Linked DNA regions of Homo sapiens: regions 2, 3, 4, 5 and 6 are each linked to region 1. Evidence: fine-mapped expression QTL. A gene starts in region 1. Each other region holds a variant in brackets. All regions are shown on one strand. Distances are from middle to middle.

Region 1 (4,000 bases):
ATAATGGAATTGTCCATTTCCTCAATCATAAATCCCTTTCTTAAATCATATAACTTCATGACAATTCCTTTAAGGGAGATTTTCTCCGTTTATCAGGAGCAATACCCTGCAGTATTAGAAATCACTATTTCTGACCGGGTGCAGTGGCTCACACCTGTAATCCCAGCACTTTGGGAGGCCGAGGCGGGCGGATAGCCTGAGGTCAGGAGTTCAAGACCAGCCTGGCCAACATGGTGAAACCCGGTCTCTACTAAAAATACAAAAATTAGCTAGGCATGGTAGCGGTTGCCTGTAGTCCCAGCTACTCAGGAGGCTGAGGCAGGAGAATCACTTGAACCTGGAAGCGGAGGTTGCAGTGAGCCGAGATGGCACCCCTACACTCCAACCTGGGCGAAAGAGCGAGACTCCGTCTCAGAAAACAAAAAAAAAGAAAAAAAGAAAAGAAAAAAATCACTATTTCTAATATCATTAGCCTTAAAAACTCAATAAACTTGCAAAGGCAAGAGTTCCTGCAGGCAGGGCCGCGCGTGGTGGCTCACGCCTGTAATCCCAGCACTTTGGGAGGCCAAGGCGGGCGGGTTACTTGAGCTCAGGAGTTCGAGACCATCCTGGCCAAAACGGTGAAACCCCCGTCTTTACCCCAAAAAAAAAAAAAAATTAGCCGGGTGTGGTGGCGTGCGCCTGTAATCACAGCTACTCAGGAGGCTGAGACAGGAGAATCGCTTGAACTCGGGAGGCGGAGGTCGCAGTGAGCCGAGATCGTGCCGTTGCACTCCAGCCCGGGCGACAGAGCGAGAATCCGTCTCAAAAAAAAAAAAAAAAAAAAGTTCCTGAAGGGAAAAGAGGCCCCTTGGGAGTATTCTCCAACCTCACCCAAACTATTCAACGGTAGGAATTCTCAACCTTTTAAGAATGGTAACGATGTCATTTTTCAACACTTTCTCTCTTCTCTGCCGTCCGCTTCAGAAATTAAAGTCATTCCCTTCCCCCAGTTCCAAGCCACTCACGAGGTGCCAGCTTGCAAAACCGGGGCGTTGGCACGAGTCTGGTAAATGCATGAAGCCCCCACAGTCCCCAGAATCTGAGGATGGCACCCAAGGCCTGCATTCTCCTAGCGTCGTCCTCTCTAAGCGCACAATTCCTTTCCCCAAAACCACCAGAACCCCCAGCCCTCGCCAAAGACAATCAAAGCCTAGAAAGGGTTCTCTTTCCTTTCCTTCTGATTCAGAAACCGCTTCTCACCCGCACCACCTCCCCACCTCCACTTTCCCTTCTGCCGCGAGCCCCCGGCCCTCCGTCCACCCGCCGCGGCCTCCCCAGCGCCCGGAGCTGCCGTCTCCCCTCCCGCACTCCCGTTTCCCCTCCTGAGGGGCGGAACGCTTACCTGCTCGATGGCCAGCTGCACCTCGGGCGTGAGCTGCAGCACGGCTTCCAGCTCCTCCACGAACTCCAGTTCCTCCTCCTCCATCATTCCGCCACCCGGCCCCCTGCCGACCCCCGCCGCGAGCCCAACTCAGGCCTCCAGCCGCCACCCAGGCCCCAGCACAGCAACTCCCTCGCGGCAGCGACCTGGTGAGCCCGGCTCCGTCAGCCGCTCTGTCAGCCGCTCCGGCACTTCCGGCAGGCCAGGGCACTTCCGGGACCGGGGAACTGTGGGATCACGGCGGACTGAGACTGGCGGCGTTCCTGTCACGTCAGGTGTCTCCCGGGCAACGCAGTATCCCGGCGGCCCCGCGTGGCCTCAGCGCGTCCTTAGGATGGGCGGGGCCTCTTCCCTCCCCAAGGCGCGCCCCGCACTGAGGACCCCGAGGTTGGGGTAGGGTCTGGCCTCCAGCAGGACGCCCGGATGAAAGTCAGCCCTGCGGCGTCGCCAACCGCAGCCCACAGCCTCCGCGGGCAGCGCAGCGGCGACCTCTCAGCTCCCGGGGCCCCCTCGGTCAGTGGCAGCGGGTGTCCCCGGCCACGGGGGCGACGTGATCCCAGCTGGCGAGTGGCGATGTCGCCAAGGACATTCGTAGGACGGGACAGTGCCCACTCGATAGAAATTCCCCGTGCGCCGGGCTCTGCGCAGAAGCTTTTCGAGGTGACTGCAGCCTCCTTATGGGGAGAAACGTCTTTTTTTTTTTTTTTTTTTTTTTTGAGACGGAGTCTTACTTGTTGCCCAGGCTGGAGTGCAACGGCGCGATCTCGGCTCACTGCAACCCCGCCTGCTGGGTTCAAGCGATTCTCCTGTCTCAGCCTCCCGAGTAGCTGGGATTACAGGCGCCCGCCACCACGCCCAGCTAATTTTTGTATTTTTAGTGGAGACGAGGTTTCACCATGTTGGCCAGGCTGGTCTCGAACTCTTGACCTCGTGATCCGCCCGCCTCGGCCTCCCAAAGTGCTGGGATGACAGGCGTGAGCTACTGCGCCCGGCCAGAAACGTTTTTTTAAAGCCAGATGACGCAGCGCCCTGGAGCTGGGGAGACGTTTACTGAGGTTGAATATCCGGGATCTAAGTCCTGAATAGTCCACCATTGATAAGTTGTGTGACTTGGAACAAATTACTACCCCGCGTCGATGTGGAGAGGATTAAACATTAACAGCGCGATGTAAATTCAAGCTGGTAATACAGGAAATAGTGAGGTGCCCAGCCCTTACCCCCACAAAGGAACAAATAAGCCAGATCACCGATCACCCTGTGAAACCACCTTTCCTGCAGACACTGAAAAGAAGGAGGGAATTGCAGCCCAAGGAGGACCCGCTCCACCAGGTGAACCGGGAAACTCCAGGAGGGAAACGCGTTGGCCCCACTGAACTTTTTTTTGTTGTTGTTATCAGAGTTGCTCAAAGTAAAAAATAGGAGCAGTATGATTTTTTCTTTTATTTTTAATTGACAAATAATAATTATATAAACAATGTAATTTCTAACAACAAAGGAATGCTAAAAAATATACATTAAAAAAAGAAAAAAAAGACAAAATAAAATATACATTGAACCTGGTGCAGTGGCACAGGCCTGCAGCCCCAGCTACTCAGGAGGCTGAGGCAGGGAATTATTGACTTTCTGAGATTGAATATCAGGGGTCTAGATCTCATCCCACCACTGAGGATCGCTTGAGCCCAGGAGTTTGAGGCTGCAGTGAGGAATGATTCCTTTGCGCCACTGCACTCCAGCCTGGGCCACAAAGGGAGACTCTGTCTCTTAAGTAAACATAGAATATTATTGATTCATAAAATCATGATTTTGAAAATTAATGACATGAAAAATATGCACAATATATTTCAGAAAGCAAAATGTATAATTTCATTTAAAAAATGCATAGCATGGTCCCAGCTTTGTGTGTATTCTGTGCCAATAAAGCTCACAGCAAGGAAATATTACTTTTCTGCACGTGATGAATGTACATCCTTTGTACATTTTCCCAAATGTCTACAATGAGCCTGTAGTTCTCTCATGCTCAGAAAATATGAATGCCTTTTTCTAAAAGGAAAAGGTAATTATAGCTACTTATTTTGGACTTTTTTTTTCCTTTAAAAAATTAAGATATTTACATACAGTAAAATTTACTCTTGCAATTTATGATGCAGTGAGTTTTGATAAATGTGTATAAACGACTGGGCATGGTGACTCACGCCTATAATCCCAGCACGTGGGGAGGCCGAGGCTGCCAGATCACTTGAGGTCAGGGGTTCGAGACCAGCCTGGCCAACATGGTAAAACCCGTCTCTATCTACTAAAAATACAAAACGTAGCTGGCCGTGGTGGTGCACAGAATCACTTGAACCCGAGAGGTGGAGGTTGCAGTGAGCCAAGATTGCACCATTGCACTCCAGCCTGGGTGACAGAGCAAGACTCCATCTCAAAACAAACAAACAAATAATAAGAAAACAATAATAAAACAAAATAAATAAATGTATATAACCATGTAACTACTACCACAATCTAGTTATAGGACAATTTCATTCCCCCAAATTCCCTCTTGCCTCACCCCATCCACTGGCAACCACTGACTTGATT
Region 2 (4,000 bases), 170 kb before region 1:
ATCAAGCACCTACCACGCACCAGGGGCTGAAGGAATGTTTATCAAGCACCTACCACGCACTGAAGGAACGTTTCTCAAGCACCTACTACGCACTGGGCGCTGAAGGAACGTTTATCAAGCACCTACCACGTAACAGGTGCTGTGCCTGACATTTTCACATGACCTTGCTGCCTGATGAATGAATCATGTAGTGAAAGAGGTATTATTACTCCTCTTTGTGAGTAATAATAAATGAGGATGAAACAGGATTGAGGACAGCGAGTGACCTGCCTAAGGAAGCGTAACTGCTAAGTTAGCAGGAAAGGTCATTAAGATGGTACTTAAGATGCTGAAATTGAGTCAGCCAGTCTGACTTCTGACACTGTGCAACCTTCTAAAGGGGTGACCGGGACAAGTCATCTAATTTCTCTGAGCCTCAGTATTCTCGTCTATAAAATTGGGATGATGGTAACATCTATAATCTATTACTGAAAGATAACGCATGGAATGCTCTTAACACAGTGTCTCGCAGCACGTATAAATTCCACAGTAAATTTTAGCTACTGTTATAATTTTAAGAATACTTGCACTATCACTAAAAATCACTAAATTTCGATAACTGATAATTATCAATTAATTCAGATATGTATCAATTAATTGAAATTATGGTGATTTAAGTTTTATTCTTTTTTTCAAAAAAATCTGACCGGGCGCGATGGCAACATGCCTGTAATCCCAGCAGTTTGGGAGGCCAAGGCAGGTGGATCACTTGAGGCCAGGAATTCGAGACCAGCCTGGCCAACACTGTGAAACCCCGTCTCTACCAAAAATACAAAATTAGCCGGGTGTGGTGGCAGGCACCTGCAATCCCAGCTACTTGGGAGGCTGAGGCAGGAGAATCACTTGAACCTGGGAGGCGGAGGTTGCCATAAGCACAAATCACGCCACTGCACTCCAGCCTGCCGGATAGAGCGAGACTCTGTCAAAAAAAAAAAAAAAAAATCTGCATTTTTCTAAAATGGAAGTGATTTAGTTTTGTCATAATGGGAAAAATCTTTTTTATGAAAAAGAAAGCTGTGTCTTGATTCTAGGTAGAACTTGACAGTTTCTTAGTCATGGCTTTCTGTGGGCCTTCTGAAACAGATGTGCATTTTAATGACTGAGGAAAATGAAAATGAGAACAGACTTGTCTTGATTCAACGTAGAAGTGAACTTGAGGATTTCTTAGCTGTGGCTTTCCATGGTCCTTCTGAAACAGATCTGCATTTTAATGACTGAGGAAAATGAGAACAGACTTGAGAACTCTTCTACCTGTTTCAAAGTGTCTTTGGGGGATTATAACGCAGCCTCCTAAATGGGTACATGTTCACAATCCTGAAACCTAATATAAATTATGTGCCAGACGGTAAGAAAATTTAATTTATTCAGTTTCTGTTTTTTCCTAAAACTACCATTAATAGGCAAAACACTAGGTGTGTTTGCTTCTGAACAGAGACTTGGATTTATTTACCTGAGTGATGTGAGCAGCCCTAGGAAAAGGCACGGAGAGAGGCGGGGACCATGAGACCAACAGCCCCTGCTAGGGAGCCCACGGCTCTCTATCCTACGTACAGGGGCATAACCAGACATACTCATTTCTAAGGATTTGTAGGATTTAAATCTAAAAGATAGAATCCTTTGTATTTCCACCAAAACACTCCAAATAACTACTTTTTCCAGAATCAGGAGAACTAGTTTTACTTCTAGCTTCACTATTATAAGTTATATGGCTTTGGGCATAATATGAAGAAGAGAAGGAAGGAAGGAAGGAAGGAAGGAAGGAAGGGAGGGAGGGAGGGAGGGAGGGAGGGAGGGAGGGAAGGAGGGAAGGAGGGAGGGAAGGAGGGGAGTTTGGAGGGAGGGAAGGGAGTCTGGAGGGAGGGGAGGGGACAGGGGAAGGGAGGGAGAGAGGAAAGAAGGAAGGAAGGGAGAGTGGGAGGAAGGGAGGAACGGAGAGAGGGAGG[AAGGG/A]AGGGAGGGAGGGAGTGAGGAAGGCAGGGAGGGAGGGAGGGAGGAAGGGAGGAAGGAAGGAAAGAAGATACCAGAAGGAAAGTTCATTAGTTTTCAGGGAAAAATATTCAACGCAGATTGGAATATGTGGGTTGGCTGTTCAACACATCTTCTCCACTGTAGAAAAGTCCTGGTGTCAGATCAAGAAAAGCTGGAGATGAATATACACCATGATGATGGTGAATGCTTGAAGAACTCATAATCATATCAGCATGAACACTCGTGTGGACCCACCAGGACTGGGCACATGCTGACAGAAATGTATCAACTAATTGAAATTATGGTGATTTAAATTTTATTCCTTTTTTCAAAAACATCTGGTCGGGCACGATGGCAACATGCTTGCAATCCCAGCAGTTTAGGAGGCCGAGGCTCTTCCACTTTTAGGCAGGTTACTTAAGCTGATTTTGCCTCAGTTGCCACATTTGCCAAAAAGACTTACTCACTCTCTCTGTATGGCATGCCACAATCCTGCATAAAGAGGCACTGTGGTGGCGTGATCACAGCTCACTGCAACCTCTGCCTCTCAGGCTCAAGTGACCTTCCCACCTTAGCCTCCCAAGTAGCTAAAAGATCTGGAGCAGGTGATTTAATGTCTCTGTTTCAGCTTCTTTATCTGTGAAAAGGGGAAATAGCATAGCCATCTGATGAATTTATTGTTAGAATGAAATTAATTGGGTTCCAATTCCTGGTAAGTGCTCAGTAAATAGTAACTTATTATCAACTCATACAGGTTATCTAAGAAAATAAGCAATATGGAGGCCAGGCACAGTGGCTCACACCTGTAATTCCAGCATTTTGGGAGGCCGAGGTGGGAGGATCACTAGAGCTCAGGAGTTTGAGACTGGCCTGGGCAACATAGCAAGACCTCATCTCTACTAAAAATCAAGAAAATTAGCCAGGTGTGGTGGTGTGCGCCAGTAGTACCAGCTATTTGGGAGGCTAGGGTGAGAGGATCACTGGAACCCAGGAGGTCAAGGCTGCAGTAAGCTATGATTATGCCACCGCACCCAAGCCTGGGCAACAGAGTGAAGAAATTTTTTTATGAAAGAAAGAAAATAACACTATGGGAAGGAAACGTGGTCTAGAAGTTAATTTTGCTGTAACTCATCAGCAACACTACTGGAATCTCAAAGTCAGAGTTTCAGAGGGACCACCTGACTTTCATCACATTTTCCTCCCCCTTCTTCGGCCTGGCCTGCAGAAGGCTGCACCTGCATGTGAATCTAGCAAACTACCGCTCTGCATTTCCCTCTCCTTGTCTAGCAGCAGGACTCAGGGCCACACCCCCGCGGGCTCGTATTCCTTCATTCCCACATCTCTTCAATCGGCTCCAGGATGCCACCTGCTGAAGTCAGAAGCCCTTCTGCTATCAGGTGCCATTGAGGAGCATCACTCCATCCTCAACAGCACCAGCTATGGACCTAAAGGTTTCAGGGATTCTATGACCCCACCGTCTCTCACAAAGTTGTCCAAGTTTCCTACTCTACATCTACCAGCTCCACCTGGCTACCTCTGCTCAGTAGAGTTATCTATGTCTCACTTGTTTACCAATCTTTGGTCAAAAGTGTGTTTGTGGTCCTTTGGTTCTTTCTCTCCCACTCCCTGGCTCCCTCTTTACCTTCAAAGTCATTCAGGGAATACTACAGTTAAGCAAGTACTGTGCCATGCCACGGGTTTCCAAAATGAATAAGACACAGCCCTCAAGTTGTTCAAAGTTTAATAGGGAAGACAAAGACATAAAAATGATTACATAACAAAGCAGAAAGGTAGTCTAGGTACTATGGTGTCTTGAAAGAGAAATAAATATGCTCTGGCTGAGGCAAGAAATGCTGACATTGTAAGGGACCTAGAAGAGCCAAAACAGTGTTGAAAAAGAACAAAGTTGGAAGACTCATACTTCTTGATTTCAAAGATTACTACAAAGCTATTATAGCCAAACAGTGTGGTACTGGCCTGAGGGTGGACATACAGA
Region 3 (4,175 bases), 220 kb before region 1:
GGCTGGTGCCCCGTGCCCGACACCGGCCCTCTCCCAGCCCCCAGGTCTTGGGCTGTTCTGTGGCTCATGATGTGTGGATTTGCCTGCTGTTGAACCAGGTCTTCTCTTTCCTTCATATGCACCTGTCAACCAAAATGCTTTTTGAAAAACAGAACTTTACAGCTGGGCATGGTGGCTCACACCTGTCATCTCAGCACTTCAGGAAGCCGAGGGGTGGGGATTGCTTGATCCCAGGAGTTTGAGACCAGCCTGGGCAACATAGTGAGTCCTCATCTCTACACTTTTTTTGTTGTTGTTTTGTTTTGTTTTTTAATAGAGACAGGGTCTCCCTCTGTCACACAGGCTGGAGTGCAGTGGCACGATCATAGCTCATTGCAGCCTTGAACTCCTGGGCTCTAGCAACCCTCCCACTTCTGCCTCCTGAGTTGCTGGGACCACTGGAGTGCACCCCCACATCCAGCCGTAAAGCTCTACTTTTATAATTTATGTTTATATTTTTATTGCTCTGTTCTCATAATTTATCATTTTTTTAACATTTATTTCTATTTTTGTAGAGACAGGGTCTTACCATCTTGCCCAGGCTGCTCTTGAACTCCTGGGCTCAAGCCATCCTCCCTCCTCGGCCTCCCAAAGTGCCGGGATTACAGGTGTGAGCCACCACACCCAGCCAACTACAAAATTTTTGTTAAAATTAGCCTGGCATGGTGGCCGCCTGTACCTGTAGTCTGAGATTCTCAGGAGGGTGAGCTCAGATTCTCATGAGGGTGAGGTGGGTGGCAGGTACCTGTAGTCTCAGATACTCAGGAGGGTGAGGTGGGAGAATCACTTGAGCCCACGTCAAGGCTGCAATGAGCTATGATCACGCCATCGCACTACTGGGTGGTAGAACGAGACCCTGTCCTAAAAATGTTTTTAACAAAAAGTTATTTTGTTCCTTAGTTTAGATTAAGGTGATAGTTTTCAAAGAACATTGAAAGGGACCTGTCATATTCAGTAAAGAAGCGAATTGAATTAAAAACACAAACCTGACAGAACACAGCCCATATGAGTGTACCCACACATGTTGGTGAGCTCGATTCATAACCCTGAGCCCCCGAGACTCACAAAGATGGCCTGAAACAGATACAGGCAAAGGGCTACCAAAGTTCTCGCTTTCAGGGCTATCAGGTCTGAAGGAACAGGCTGGCTTTCTTAGTTTTGTTTTGTTTTTTGTTTGTTTGGGTTTTTTTGTTTTTTGTTTTGAGACAGTGTTTTGCTCTCGTTGCCCAGGCTGGAGTGCAGTGGCACGATCTAAGCTCACTGCAACCTCCACCTCCTGGGTTCAAGTGATTCTCCTGCCTCAGCCTCCCGAGTAGCTGGGATTACAGAAGCCTACCAGCACACCCAGCTAATTTTTGTATTTTTAGTACAGACAGGGTTTCACCATGTTGAAATCAGCCAAGCTGATCTCAAACTCCTGACCTCAGGTGATCTACCTGCCTTGGCCTCCTGAAGTGCTGGGATTATAGGTGTGAGCCACTGTGCCCCGTTGGCTTTTTTTCTGATCTCTCAGTTGGGAGACCACCCGTTTGGCTGGAGTCGTGGGGTCTGGCCAGGTCCAAATGATGACACAAACCCAGACAGGAAGTGCAGCTGGCATCCATCAGTCCAGTGTGCCCAGTGTGGGGAGTCCCCTGATGCCAGTCAAACACGGCTCCACTCTGGAGGCCTCTTTGTAAGCTAAGAGCTGATTCTCCCAAATGCTCCCTAGTTACACAGAAAAGGACCTTCCTTGTCTTCTGCAAAATAAATCCAGGTGGGATTTGGCAAAGAGCTGGGGCACATGGCCTCCTCGGAGCTGCATCAATACACTTGCACTTCGGGCTCCGTTCTGCGTATTCGTGCTGGACGAGGACTTGCAGACCAGAAAAGTAGCCCTTGGGTGAGCAGTTGAAGTTAAGACCCTCGGCTCCTGGGCTGACTTGCTAGAAGGGCGTGCTGTCATTATCCCTGGGGATCAAACGTCTGGTCTGTGTGGCCACACTCCAAAGGCAGGCTCAAAGGTCTCCATGGTACTCCAGGGCCCCTTGAGGATTCGGGTCTGTGGGGGCTGCCCGGGAAGGGACGGAGAGCGAGGGCCCTTGGAGGCAGCCTGTTTGCTCCACACAATGACAGGTGACTTAGCTGTGTCCTTCCCGGGAGCCACAGTGGCTTCACGTACCCCTCTCCTATCCCCAGTTCAGAGCAGAATACATGCAGGCTGGAGGCAGCTGTGGTTTGCAGCCTGATACTTGCTGAAGACATTTACATGCTTTGAAGAAATGTGTTTCAGTTTTGGGTCTTTACTGAGAATGAGCCAGAGGGGGAAGAACTTGTGGTGAGGGAGGGTCTTATCTCTTCCCAGGCCACATCAGCCTGGGGCCAACTGGGGCAGTGTTGTTGCCCCTCTCCCCGCTCCCTTGTAGGACTTCCACCCCCACCTCCAACCACTGACAAGTACGTCTGGGAATCCCC[G/A]AAGATGTCTTTCATAAGCTCATAAATAAACCTGGTCACACTTATGGAATGCCTGCTCTTAATTTTCTTTTCTTTTTCTAGCCCTCACTGTCCTGGCCTCTGGTTCTGCTAAGGTGTGTGACGGTGGACCACCATGGTCCTCCGATTGGGTGCCCCTGCTACAAGTACCATCAGCCCCTGCAGCCTCTTGAGAGAGGTGACAGTGGTGGCACATGGGTACGGTCCCCTTGCCCTTTGCCCCTTGCCCCTTGCCAGGCACCGCCCAAAGCCCTGGGCACTGCTGCCGGTGCTGGTGGTGGCAGAGGCCCCTGTGGCTCTCGGGCATTAGCCTGTAGGTCTTCTGCTGCAAAGCGCCTCTCACCCCTCCTGGTTGCGTGGGTGGGGTGGTCCTGAAGCCCCGTGGCTTCCTTTATTTCTGCCTTCTCTGTAGAATTCAAACATGAACCCTGCAGGGCTAGACCAAGACACAAATATCAATTTCTAAAAACACCCCTTTGAGGGTTGGGCACGGCGGCTCACGCCTGTAATCCCAGCGCTTTGGGAGGCCGAGGCGGGTGGATCACCTGAGGTCAGGAGTTCGAGACCATCCTGGCCAACAGGGTGAAACCCCATCTGTACAAAAAATACAAAAAATAGCCGGGTGTGGTGGCGCATGCCTGTAGTCCCAGCTACTCAGGAGGCTGAGGCGGGAGGATTGCTTGAGCTCAGGAGAGATCAGTCTGGGCAACACGGTGAAACACCATCTCTACAAAAAATACAAAAACTAGCCTGGTGTGGTGCTGGGCGCCTGTAGTCCCAGCTGCTTGGGAGGCTGAGGTGGGAGGATCGCTGGAACCTGGGAGGCAGAGGCTGCAGTGAGCCAAGATCGCACCACTGCACTCCAGCCTAGGTGACACAGTGAGAGCCTGTTGAAAGAAAGAGAGAGAGAAAGAAAGAGAGAGAAAGGGAGGGAGGGAGGGATGGAGGGAAAAGGAGAGGAGAGGAGAGAAAGGCAAGGCAGAGGAGGGAGGGGAGCTTGGCCAAGGTGGTGGCACCTGGGAGGCTTATCTGGCATCCTGGCAGCAAGGCTGGGAGGCTGGTGGTGAGCACCTGGCCCATGCTGATCTTCCCACCTCCCTGGCCTCTACTGACGTGTAACTTGTTCTGCTCGGCCATTGAGTGCCACTCTCTGCTTTTTTTCTTTGAGACAGAGTCTCTGTGGTCCAGGCTGGAGTGCAGGAGTGCAATCTCAGCTCACTGCAACCTCCGCCTCCCAGGTCCAAGGGATTCTACTACCTCAGCCTCCAGAGTCACTGGGACTACAGGCACCTGCCACCACGCCCAGCTAATTTTTGTATTTTTAGTAGAGACATGGTTTCACCATGTCGGCCAGGCTGGTCTCACACTCCTGACCTCAAGTGATCCACTCGCTTCAGCCTCCCAAAGTTCTGGGATTACAGGCGTGAGCCACCGCGCCTGGCCATTCTCAGCAATTTAATTTAATTTAATTTTGAGACAGAGTCTTTCTCTGTCACCCAGGCTGGAGTGCAGTGGCATGATCTCAGCTCACTGTAACCTCTGCCTCCCAGGTTCAAGCCATTCTCCTGCCTCAGCCTCCCAAGTAGCTGGGACTACAGGCATGCACCACTACACCAGCTGATTTTTGTATTTTTAGTAGAGACAGGCTTTCGCCATGTTGGCTG
Region 4 (4,000 bases), 88 kb before region 1:
TTCTCAAGGAATTCACTCTTTATTTTGTTAATTGGGATTTAGAAGGTGACAATCTCAACTCATCTTAAACCAATGCTAAAAGGTTCTCTAAATCTACAGGAGTCAATGTGTTTCTTTTTTTTTCTTCCTCTTTCTTTCTTTTTCCCTTCCACTCGCCCTCCCTCCCTCCCTCCCTCCCTTCCTCACTTCCTTCCTTCTCTGTCTTTCTCTCTCTTCTTTTTTTTTTTTTGAGACAGGGTCTCACTCTGTCACCCAGGGCTGGAGTGCAATGGCATGATAATGGCCTACTGCAACCTTGACCTGGGCTCAAGCAATCCTCCCACCTCAGCCTCTCTAGTAGCTGGGATTACAGGTGCTTGCCACCATGACCAGCTAATTTTTGCATTTTTTGTAGAGATGGGGTTTTGCCATGTTGCCCAGGCTTGTCTCAAACTCCTAGGCTCATATGATCCACCTGCCTTGGCCTCCTGAAATGCTAGGATTATAGGCATAAACCACCAAGCCTGGCCCAATGTGTTTCTTAGAATAACAGCCACACAGAATGGAGCTCAGTGCACCTGTAGTTGCAGCTACTTGGGTGGCTGAAGCAGGAGGGCTGCCTGAGCCCGGGAGTTCAAGGCTGGGGTACGCTATTACCATGCCTGTGAATAGCCATTGTACTCCAGCCTGGGCAACACTGCGAGACCCCCATCTCTTAAAAAAAAAAAAAAAAGCCACACAGAATGTATGTGAACACCAAGCGTGAACACTACCATGAACTATGGACCATCACTCTGGGTAATGATGATGTGTCCGTGTAGTTTCATGAGCTGTGATAAATGCATCGCTCTGGCGGAAGGTGCCGACCATGGGGAAGACTATGCACGTGGGGCCGGGAGCACCTGGGAACTCTCTGTGTCTTCTGCTCAATTCTGCTGTGAACCTAAAACTGCTCTAAAAGGTAAAATCTATTTTAAGAAAAGCCAATATCCCTTAAAACACTTTTGCCCCACAATGTGTTTGAAACATGCAATTTGACTTTACTTTCCATGATTTTAATAAAAAAGACGGCCATGGATTATGGGAAAAGGTGGTTGAGTTATGCTAGATATGGGCTTTTTTTTCTCTTTTTCACCCAGCATTAGATCTAACTGTGTACTACTGGGAGGAAATATATAACTAATAAGAACCAGTTACCAACACTGTTGTAGTCTAGCCGCAAATAAAGAATAAAAGGAGTTCAAGACCAGCCCGAACAACACAGCAAAACTCTTGTCTCTACAAAAAATACACACACAAAAATTAGCCGGTGTGGTGGCACACACCTGTCATCTCAGCTACTCAGGAGGCTGAGGTGGGAGAATCACTTGAGCCTAGGAGGTCAAGGCTGCTGTGAGCCATGATCACACCACTGCACTCCAGTCTGGGTGACAAAGTGAGACCCCGTCTCAAAAAAAAAAAAAAGTCTGACTCTGGCTTTAGCTTTGTCATAGATATACTGATTTAACCTTCCTGGGCTTTGGGTTTTTTTAATATAAAGAGACTATCTGTCCTTGGGCTACACTCATGGATAACGTAGAGAGGATGAACAAAAGACGGTCTTTAAAATGCTTGGAAAGCTCAGACGCAGGCCAGGTGCAGTGGCTCATGCCTGTAATCCCGGCACTTCGGGAGGCTAAAATGGGCGGGCAGATCACCTGAGGTCGGGACTTCAAGACCAGCCTGGCCAACGTGGTGAAACCCCATCTCTACTAAAAATACAAAAATGAGCCAGGTGTGGTTACACACACCTGTAATCCTTGCTACCTGGGAGACTGAGGCATGAGAATCACTTGAATGCAGTAAATGGAGGTGGCAGTGAGCTGGGATTGTATCACTGCAGCACTCCAGCCTGGGTGACAGAGTGATTCTGTCTTGAAATAAAAGCTCTGAACTATCCAGAGGCTATACACACTGTATTGGGAGTGGGAAATTCATTCAACAAATGTTTCCTCTGTGTCTGCTATATCATTAAGGTAGATACTACCCTGTCTCTATGGAACTATCTATCTAGCAAGTCAGAAAATAAAAATGATGATGGGATATATACACAGCACACTGATACATGCGATACCGACTAGGGGAAAACGTGGGGTAGAGGAATCACTGTAGGTCAATCTGGTGTATAAGCCTTGAGTTGGTGGAGAAGGTAGAGATGGCTTGAGGCAAGAACTACACCACGGAAAGTCCCAGAGCAAAGATGGGGGCAGAGGGAGCAGCTGGTGGGGCCACTGTGGGGTACGAGGATGATATTAGTCATCTGGTGGGGTCTGGAAGTGGCATCAAATCCACAGGACAACA[T/C]GGAACCATTAGAGACTGGGGAACCGATGGTGAAAATTTGATTAACCACAGAACCAGTAGAGAACTGGCATCTACCTTGTCACATGGCAAAATTCCACCGCAATCCTCTCAGCCATGCACCACTCACGTGGAAACATGCGGCCGTATTTCTCCTCATAGTCCACAAGCTGGCGTTTTATCCAGGCATAGCGTCTGTCGATTTTGTCCAGCCAGGCAACCTGGTGAAGGTGGAGATCAAAAGCCACCCCAGTGGTTAGAAGTAGAAATGGCAGTTCAAGGAAACAAGCAAAAACACAGAGCCAAGCAAAAGGGAACCAACCTCTGTATTTCTCATGGTTTTAAAGAATCTAGGCTACCTTTTTAACTTGATTTTTTACTTAAAAATTCAGAGGTTTTTGGCTGGGCGCAGTGGCTCATGCCTATAATCCCAGCACTTTGGGAGGCCGAGGTCAGCAGATCACCTGAGGTCAGTTCGAGACCAGCCTGACCAACATGGAGAAACCCCGTCCCTACTAAAAAATACAAAAATTAGCCTGGTGTGGTGACAGGCGCCTGTAATCCCAGCTACTTGGGAGGGGGAGGCAGGAGAATTGCTTGAACCCGGGAGGCAAGGTTGCAGTAAACTGAGATCGCACCACTGCGTTCCAGCCTGGGCAACAAGAGCGAAACTCCGTCTCACACACACACACACACACACACAAAATCCAGAGGTTTTTAACCTGGGGTCCATGATTGGCCTTCAGGGGTCTATACATTTCCAGAAACTATATGCAGAATTTTATGCACAGGTGCATGTTTCTGAATTTCTCCAAAGGGTCAGTGACCTCAAAATGGTTAAGAACTATAAACTCAGCCCCTAGGACTCACAGCTCAACAACCAACACTGTCAGACAGTCATGTAATACGAGGTCTAAATTAGTAGGCTTGACAGCACTCATGTTTCAATAAAATTCAAATGTTACATCTGATCTTATTTGGTCAATACTCACATCTTGGTTTTCTTGAAAAAGTACCAGATACTCTGACAGATGCTGTTTAATAAACTTTTTGATGATTTCCTGTTTGATCCTGGGATCTAGAATATTAGCAACCAGACATGCATCTCGTAGAACATTGCTGGGTCCTCCTGGTCTCTAGTAAAACAAACATGTACCAGGTGAAAAGCCAGAAACAACCTTTAAACCTCATGGCTTCTCACAGCCACTACTTGTTATCTCTACGCATTGTCAGTCTTACTCCTGCTCCTTCACACTCATTCTTTCTGCTGTGGCTGGATCTGTCAGTTACCTGCTGCTCCTCGAGGATGGAATCCTTACACTCGTTTTACAGCAAGCGACAGAAAAACTACCCTGTGAATCTGCAATGAGATATTTTGGGAAATGGGCAGTAATGATCACGGGAAATTTGACTTTCTGCAAACCAAAACTGAAAGAGATCTAAAAGTCAGAATGCCACTGGTCTCTGATGTCGCAAGATGCTGCTGAAGAGGCCTAAGAGTGGGAATGCCACCAGCCTCTCTCCTAAGAGTTGGAATGCCACCAGCCTCACTCCACATGTGCCACTCTTCCCTGACTCCAACCTCTGGGATTCCTGTTCTTAAAGTGCTATGTTTTTGCCAAATAGTGTGGTCTCCCTTAACACATAAAACCAGGTTCCAAGCCACGACATGTGTTTCACAATA
Region 5 (4,000 bases), 180 kb before region 1:
AGTTTCAACCAGGCTGTGGATTTTGATGTCTCAACAGGAAAGGCTGCTATTGCTTAAGACAGCAAACGAGGTAAAAGGAAACATCTATGGTTTTGCAGGGGTGGGGTAGAAAGGAAGCTGAGGGAGAGGAAACTGGAGTCCGGAGATCGGATCTGGAGGTGGCTTGTGATCAGGAAGGAGAGTAAACAAGGGGCTATTTGGAAGGAATTCCTCAGTGCTGGAAACCAGAGCCAGACAAGCAACATGAAACTGAACTCATGACCAATGGCAGCTGTGCACACAGCGCTTTGTAACCTAAGTTGCTTCACATTAGAACATGCTCCGGACTGGGCATGGCAGCTCATGCCTATAATCCCAGCACTCTGAGAGGCCCAGGCAGGTGGACTGCTTGAGCCCAGGAGTTTGAGACCAGCCTGGGCAACATGGCAAAATCTCATCTCTACAAAAAATAGAAAAATGAGCTAGGCCGGGTGGCGAGCGCCTGTAATCCCAGCTATTCAGGAGGCTGAGGTGGGAGAATCACCTAAGCCCAGGAGATGGGGGCTGCAGTGAGCTGTGGTTGCACCACTGCACTCCAGCCTGGGTAACAGAGTGGGACCCTGTATCAAAAAAAAAAAAAAAAACCTTTGGCTGTGCCCCTGAACTGGCTCTCTATACTAGTCTACAGGTGGCGATGGGGGGAGTATGAGGACCTGACACACGTCCTGTGGGGAAAAAACCAAGCAATGTGCTGGGTAACTGCCAAGGGCTTCTCTGGGCCATCAGGGCGGTGGTGGCTGCTGCCCTTGACCAGGGAAGGGTCTCCTCACAAGCCCACCTCTGTTAAGCGGGATTTTAGCAGGATGAGAAGGCACCATGGATGAAAACAGAAAACCACTTCCTAGATCCCAGGCTGAATGATTACAGATGTGAGGGGGGGCATCCAATTCCCAGCGCACTCAACCTGGGCTTAGCAATGAAACTCAAGGGCTCTGAGAGAATGTGAGGCTGATGCTGGGAGATGCTGGGACTGGCTAAGTCAACCGACTCCTCCTTCACTTTAACGTAAGCTCAATCATATGACTGAGCTGGGAGACGCCGGGACTGGCTAAGTCAACGGACTCCTCCTTCGCTTTAATGTAAGCTCAATCATATGACTGAGCAGGGAGACGCCGGGACTGGCTAAGTCAACAGACTCCTCCTTCACTTTAATGTAAGCTCAATCATATGACTGAGCTGGGAGACGCTGGGACTGGCTAAGTCAACGGACTCCTCCTTCACTTTAACGTAAGCTCAATGAGACCCCGGAGCAGCCACCCTGGAGATTTTGAGTCACAGTAAATTTTTACAGAGACACTGCTTCTACCAGCAGTTATGGGGAGCGTCACGATGTGATTTATCAGCAACATTTCTAACACACTAATGAGCACCCAGAGAGTGAGGGAATTTCACCTCCTGGTCCATCTGCCATCTGCAAACATTAATGCCTCCCTGGAGAGTCCACTCTATCCTTTCTTGACAAACTAGAAAGTAAAGCTGACACCACAAGCCGCTCCATAATTGTTAGTCCTGAGGGGTTCATTTGTGAGGTAC[A/G]GGGAAACTGGGAGAGATTGGGGGAAGACAGAAACTTGGAGTCCTGAATCACCAGCTGGGGCCTGGATGGGAACAACCCAAATACAGTAGCTTGGCCTGGGCTGACCCTCCTGAAGCCCTTCCCTGAGAAGTCTGCCAAAATGCTTGCTTGATAACTGGTCAGAGGAGACACTGACCCTCACCACCACCTGGTATCACGGAAAATGGTGCTAAGCCAGATGGTGATCGGCAAAGAACTAAACTATTTCCTCGCTTCAAAACTCAGGGCAGAAATGGCCACACACAAGACACAGCAGGAAGACACACGGCTCAGGGTGCACTCACCTGCCTTGGCCAGGGAGCTCCCTGGCTTGTGCATCCCAATTTCTAGTGCCTTCCTCGGACCAAGAGTGTGTCCAAGTATGAATAGATAAATTCTAGCAGCCATGGTAAAAAATACCAGGGGGAGGGAGGACAAGAAGGCTCAAAAGAAACAGAACCGATGGCTCCTACCCTTAAGAGGCATTTATTAAGCCAGTCAGAGAAACAAAATGCATATATGAAATCCCTGAAAAAGAATTTTAATTATCCAATCCTGGGCAAGGAGAGCTTATGCCTGCACAGTTCAAAACAACAGTAGGCCCCATTCATTTTTGTTTGCCTTGACGTGGCTGGCAATTGTACTGCTGTTACTGTTGCCTATGACTTTAAGTAGCAGATTTAGTTTTATGATTATGCTTCTTTTGTGTACAAATTAAAATCAGTACTGCAGGCACCAGAACAAACCGCAGCTGGATGGTGGGGACACTCAAATTGTGAGGATGCTGGTGGGAAGTATGGTTTTAAAAACAACCCAGTTGAGTATGACACTGAAATGGCGGCCACACGTCACTGTACATTTGTCCAAACCGAGGGAATGTCCAGCGCGACGTCAGAGTCCGGGTGATAATGACGTGTTGATGCAGGTTCATCCACTGTAACGAATGTGCCACTTTGTGTGTGGGGAGGTGTCGGTAATGGGAAGACTGTGCATGTTGGGGGGGTCAGGTACACGGGAAATCTCTGTGCTTGCTGCTTAATTTGGCTGTGAACCTGAAACTGTTCTAAAACATAAAGTCTATTAAAAAGAACAAGAACCCAGAGATGAGCACGCCCCAGGACTTACTTTGCAAATTTAACGCAGAACTGAGTGAAGTACTTGCGTGTGGAAGCCAGGTTGTCACGGATGATGGGGACGTTCTGCTTGATGTGCAGAATGACAGAGGTGACGTAGGGGCTCTGGTCACCAACGTGCTCCACGTTCTGCCACTGCATCTGAAAGGGAGAAAGGATGAGGCGTTGAATCCCTCGCAGGAGAACGGTGTCGCCTGTTACTGGGGAAGGGAGGGGCTGGAGTGGAAGTCAGGTCACAGCTTTGGTATCCCAGGAATCAGGCCCTTTTGTCCTGGGGAGTTTCTTATTCGTTCTGTAGGGACTGATACTCAGGACAAATGCGAGTGTGCCCAGCGGACCCGACAGTGAGGTGTGACCCAGACCCTTTCCTTTTCCTGCCTTGTCCCCGACCTGCCTGAAACAGCCTTCCCTTCTCAGCTAAGCTACCCACTCGTAAAGGATCCTGTTCTCCTGCCGAGTGCCCCACAGCAGGGGACTGCAGCAGAACGGGGAGGGACACCGACTCCCAAGCTGACCGGCAGCCTGGGAGATGAGAGAGGTGGCTGGACTAAGTGACATGCAACCTGGAGGGGAATTCACAGACACCTTTCTCTCCAGTCAACTGGGAGGAGTTTGGGATTCTTTAACACAGAAAACTAGAAATGATATGACACGTGGGGATGTTGCTTCAAAATAATATGAAGTTACCGGGAAGAGGTGCAGATGAAATAAGATCGTGAAGCTGAGTGACAGGTACATAGAGGCTGACCACACTGTTTCCTCTACTTTTGAATATATTCAAAAATTTCCATAATAAAACACTTGAAGAGGTATGCGTGTAGAATCTTACACTCCTAAAACCTTTGGGATTATGTCAGGATTTCAATAAGGGGAAGGGAAAGAGAATCTCTGGCAAACACTAGGGTGGACCAGAGGGTAAGATGGAGACGTGGGGAACAGGCCAGGAGCCAGGCGCAGGGGAGAGAACATTGCTGAGAGCACCGAGGTGGTCCCTGAACAAGCTGTGAACAAAAGTGACAGACCTGCTTCAACCTGAGCCCTAACGACAGGCTCTGGAAGACACCTATAGCAAACTGGCGGGATTCTTGGACTACGTGGCACTTGGCAACATTGAGTCCTGGGAACAGAAGGAGGCAATGCTGCAGTGTGCCATCCCCCAAGGGTGCATGCAGGAGATGGGTGCAGCACCAGCTCCTAGCCTGCCCCGGGCTGGCAGGGAAGGGCATTCTAATCCCGAAGAGTGGGAATGGTCTGGAGGGTTCTGCTGAGTCAGCCT
Region 6 (4,000 bases), 190 kb before region 1:
GGTGGTCATAAAGTCCTCATTTCTCTAGGGTGGAAGCTACTCAAGAGTAGAACTGCTGGATCATGGGGTAGGCATATGTTTGGCTAACTGCCTAGGAGTTTTCCAATGTGGCTGGGCTAACTTCCATTTCTACCAGCACATATGAAAGTTCCAGATGCTCCACATCCTTACCAACACTTGGTATCATCACTCTTTTAAATTATTATTATGATTAGAGACAGGGTCTTACTCTGTCACCTGGGCTGGAATGCAGTGGTGCAATCATAGCTCACTGCAACCTTGAACTCCTTGGCTCAACTGATCCTCCTGTCTCAGCTTCCCGAGTGGCTAGGACTACAGGCACGTGCCACACTTGGCTAATTTTTAAATTGTTTTGTAGAGATGGGGTCTCGCTGTGTTGCCCAGGCTGATCTCAAACTGCTGAGCTCAAGCAGTCTTCCTGCCACAGCCTCCCAGAGTGCTAGGATTACAGGCACAAGCCATCGCACTTGGCCAAAGTCTTTTAAGTACTCAAAATAACCAATCTTTTCTTTTATGGTTAGTGCTTTTAATGTTTTGTTTAAGGGATCTTTGCCTAACCCAAGGTCATAAACATATTGTCTTATATTAAATCTTCCAGAAGCTTTATTGCCTTATTTTTTAGAGCCATAATCCATCTGGGATTAATTTTCTAAAAATGGAGATATAATTCAAAAACCATAAAATTTACCTTTTGGAAGTGTACAATTCAGTGGTTTTTAAGGTCTATTCACAAGGTTGTACAGCTGTCAGCATTATCTGGTTTCAGAACACATTATCACCCCAGAAAGAAACCCTTACCCATTAGCAGCCATTCCCATCTCCCCCTCCCTCAGCCTTTGCCAACCATTAATCCACTTTCTGTTTTACGGATTTGCCTGTTCTGGACATTTCACAGAAGCAGAGTCACACAATAGGTGGCTTTTTGTGTCTGGCTTCTTTCACTTAACATGGTTTCAAGGCTCTTCCATGTTGTAGCATGAATGGGTACTTTATTCCTTTTAATGGCTGAGTAATATTCCCTTGTATGGATAGACCACATTTTGTTTATCATCAGCTGATGGACATTTGAGTTGTTTCTACTTTCTGGCTATTATAAATGGTGCTGCTATGAATATTTGTGTACAAGCTTTTGTGTGAACACATTTTTTTTTCAATTCTTTTTTTTTTTTTTTTTTTTGAGACAGAGTCTCACCCTGTCACCCAGCCTGAAGGTACAGTGGCGCAATCTTGGCTCACTGCAATCTCTGCCTCCCAGGTTCAAGTGATTCTCCTGCCTCAGCTTCCCGAGTAGCTGGAGTTACAGGTGCACACCACCATGTACAGCTAATTTTTGTATTTTTAGTAGAAGTGGGTTTTCACCATGTTGGCCAGGCTGGTCTCGAACTCCTGACCTCAGGTGATCTGCCTGCCTCAGCCTCCCAAAGTGCTGGGATTACAGGTGTGAACCATGCACCCTGCCTTTTTCAATTCATTTGGGTATATATCTAGGAGTATAATTGCTGGGCCCTGTGGTAACTCTATGTAAATGCCAAACTGTTTTCCAAAATGGCTGTACCGTTTTGCATTACCACCAGCAATGTATGAGTGTTCTAATTTCACCAAATCCTCTTTGGAATTGATTTTTATATATGGTGTGTGGCAAAGGTCAAGATTTTTTTCCGATATGGATATCCAATTACCCAGCACTATTTACTGAAAAGACTCTCTTTGAATGATGCCACTTTGGTCATAAATCAAGTATCTACACATGTGTGGGTCTATCCCTCAGCTCAGATCTGTTCTGTTGGCCTCTTTGTCCCTGGGGCCAGTGCCACACTGCTCTAATTACAATACTGCTGCAATAAGTCTTGATATCCTGAGCTTTAACTCCTCCAATTCTGTTCTAAGATTATTTTGGCTGTTGTCTTCTGTATTTTCATCTAACTTTTAAAATCAGCATATCA[A/G]TTCACACACACACACTCACACACACACACACACACACACACCCCTGCTGGGATTCTACTGTATCTATAGATAAATTGATACAGTAATTAGGATTGAATTCTATCTATAGATTAATTTTGGAATAATTTGCCGCTTTTTAAATTGTTATTTATTTTTTATTGGGCAGCCTCCTCAGCCAGAGCAGGCTCAGAAAGACTCCATATGTATTTCTTTTTGAGTCTTTCTTATCAATGAACATGAGCTATCCTGTCATTTTAAAGGTCTTTATGGATTCTGTGTCTTAATATTGTACAGTTTTCTGTGTAGAAGACTTGTACATTTTTAATTTACTCCTAGGTATTTAATGTTTCCTGATGTTATTGTAAATGATTTCATTTAGGCCTGGGAGCCATGGCTCACGCCTGTAATCGCACCACTTTGGGAGGCTGAGGAGGGTGGAGTTTGAGACCAGCCTGGGAGACACAGGGAGGCAGACCCTATATCTACCAAAAAAAAAAAAAAAGAGCCAGCCAGGCATGGTAGTACATTCCTGTAGTCCCAGATACTTGAGAAGTTGAGGCAGGAGGATGGCTTGAGCCCACGAATTGAGACTGCAGTGAGCTATGATTGTGCCACTGTACTCACTCCAGCCTGGGCAATACAGCAAAAAAAAAAAGTATTTCACTCAAAAATGTTCATTTTTAAATTGTTTGCTGCTGGTATATAGAAATATATTTTAAAACACTTTCCTTATAGCCAGCAACCTTGCTAAATTTATATTCTTTTTTTTTTTTTTTTTTTGAGACGGAGTCTCTATCACTCAGGCTGGAGTGCAGTGGCGCAATCTCAGCTCACTGCAACCTCCCAGGTTCAAGCAGTTCTCCCAGGTTCAAGCAATTCTCCTGCCTCAGCCTCTCGAGCAGCTGGGATTACAGGCGCACCACACCTTGCCCAGCTAATTTTTGTATTTTTAGTAGAGACGGGGGTTTCACTGTGTTGGTCAGGCTGGTCTTTAACTCTTGACCTTGTGATCCGCCCGCCTCGGCCTCCCAAAGTGTTGGGATTAAGGGTGTAAGCCACTGCACCCGGCCTGCTAAATTTATATTCTAACAGTTTATCTGTAGATCCTTTTAGATTTATTACTCATAATCATATTTTCCATGAAAAATGACAGCTTAGTTTCCTCCTTTCTAATCTGTATATATTTTGTTTCTTTTAAAAATATTGTATTTTTTGCCTTGTTGTCCTAGCCAGGACTTCAACAACAACGTGGGATAGAAATGGTGACAGCGGACATTCTCCTCTTATCCTTAATCTCAAGGGAAAGAAAAGCTTTCATAGGTGAACGCAGTCATAAGAATAATTAGTGACCCTGCAAAACAGGATGATCTGAAGATCATAAACTAGCAAGAAGCATGATCAATATTGGTGTGGGTCAGTTCCACGTGCCCTTGCAATTGCTCGAGGACTCTGGGGCCCAAAGATAAAGAACTCACTTTATATAGTACTCAGAGAACAAAGAGCAGAAAAATGTCTCCCATCCCATTTTCAGCATAAGTATTAAAGCAAAACCTAATTTAGGATCTGGCACCCTTGTGGCAAGGCAGACACAGCTGAGGTTGGGCTAAATCTTAGCTTCCAATGCCATAGCTTTTGTTCAAGTTTGGATGGCAGCTGCTCCACTACTGGAGGCAGCGTCTGTTTCAGTCTATGAACACTGCTGAGTTAACTTGATTCTGATGGTTCTGCTGCCTGAGTGAACACGCCTGCAGCTACATGGCTGCTTGAGTTTCAAGGCCCAGACATCAGGGCAAGTACAGGCCCAGCCAAACCTCAACTCATGTGAGAATCGTTCAGGGGCCACGTTGCCCTGTAGTTCCCACCCACACCCTCCCCATTCTGGGCCTGTCAAGATCCACACTCCCCTACTGCCCACCTGAACTGGCCTGGGGTCTGATTAAGTAAAACTCCAGTTCCAGCAGATGGTTTTCTCATCCACACCTCAAAACGGAAGTAAACATAGGATGTTGGCTGTGGGTTTGTTAAAAAATAATAA

Alleles and levels. Positions count from the first base shown, and alleles are read on the strand shown. Sizes are in standard deviations (SD) of each study's normalised expression. Not every link is listed here.
As copies of A replace AAGGG in region 2, the expression in Th1/17 cells of the gene that starts at base 1,601 in region 1 goes down (moderate effect, 0.74 SD a copy in Schmiedel 2018).

What was found. PIP is the estimated chance that this variant, and not a neighbour inherited with it, causes the effect. A credible set is the group of variants that fine-mapping cannot tell apart.
Region 2: its variant is the best candidate, but not a certain one, in a credible set for the expression of VPS53 in Th1/17 cells (Schmiedel 2018, PIP 0.57).
Region 3: its variant is the best candidate, but not a certain one, in a credible set for the expression of VPS53 in lung (GTEx, PIP 0.53).
Region 4: its variant is the best candidate, but not a certain one, in a credible set for the expression of VPS53 in blood mononuclear cells (TOPMed, PIP 0.62).
Region 5: its variant is the best candidate, but not a certain one, in a credible set for the expression of VPS53 in monocytes (Quach 2016, PIP 0.57).
Region 6: its variant is the best candidate, but not a certain one, in a credible set for the expression of VPS53 in whole blood (TOPMed, PIP 0.60).

Annotation. Positions count from the first base shown.
Region 1 is chr17:713,239-717,238 of GRCh38, forward strand. It overlaps VPS53 (VPS53 subunit of GARP complex), which reads right to left and starts at 1,601. Exons shown (of 22, transcript NM_001128159.3): 1 at 1,385-1,601. The coding sequence starts at 1,471. RefSeq lists an enhancer at 2,073-2,142.
Region 2 is chr17:542,013-546,012 of GRCh38, forward strand. All of the region lies in intron 17 of VPS53 (VPS53 subunit of GARP complex), which reads right to left. The region is part of intron 2 of VPS53-AS1 (VPS53 antisense RNA 1); the gene reads left to right. Among named protein-coding and RNA genes, the nearest start is that of VPS53-AS1, 21 kb to the left of the region's middle. The variant AAGGG/A (reference allele first, on the strand shown) is at 1,983.
Region 3 is chr17:495,066-499,240 of GRCh38, forward strand. No RefSeq gene overlaps it. Among named protein-coding and RNA genes, the nearest start is that of VPS53-AS1, 26 kb to the right of the region's middle. The variant G/A (reference allele first, on the strand shown) is at 2,494.
Region 4 is chr17:624,780-628,779 of GRCh38, forward strand. It overlaps VPS53 (VPS53 subunit of GARP complex), which reads right to left. Exons shown (of 22, transcript NM_001128159.3): 9 at 3,309-3,452; 10 at 2,395-2,537. Among named protein-coding and RNA genes, the nearest start is that of VPS53, 88 kb to the right of the region's middle. The variant T/C (reference allele first, on the strand shown) is at 2,320.
Region 5 is chr17:534,312-538,311 of GRCh38, forward strand. It overlaps VPS53 (VPS53 subunit of GARP complex), which reads right to left. Exons shown (of 22, transcript NM_001128159.3): 18 at 2,717-2,865. All of the region lies in intron 1 of VPS53-AS1 (VPS53 antisense RNA 1), which reads left to right. Among named protein-coding and RNA genes, the nearest start is that of VPS53-AS1, 14 kb to the left of the region's middle. The variant A/G (reference allele first, on the strand shown) is at 1,573.
Region 6 is chr17:527,418-531,417 of GRCh38, forward strand. The region is part of intron 19 of VPS53 (VPS53 subunit of GARP complex); the gene reads right to left. The region is part of intron 1 of VPS53-AS1 (VPS53 antisense RNA 1); the gene reads left to right. Among named protein-coding and RNA genes, the nearest start is that of VPS53-AS1, 6.7 kb to the left of the region's middle. The variant A/G (reference allele first, on the strand shown) is at 1,965.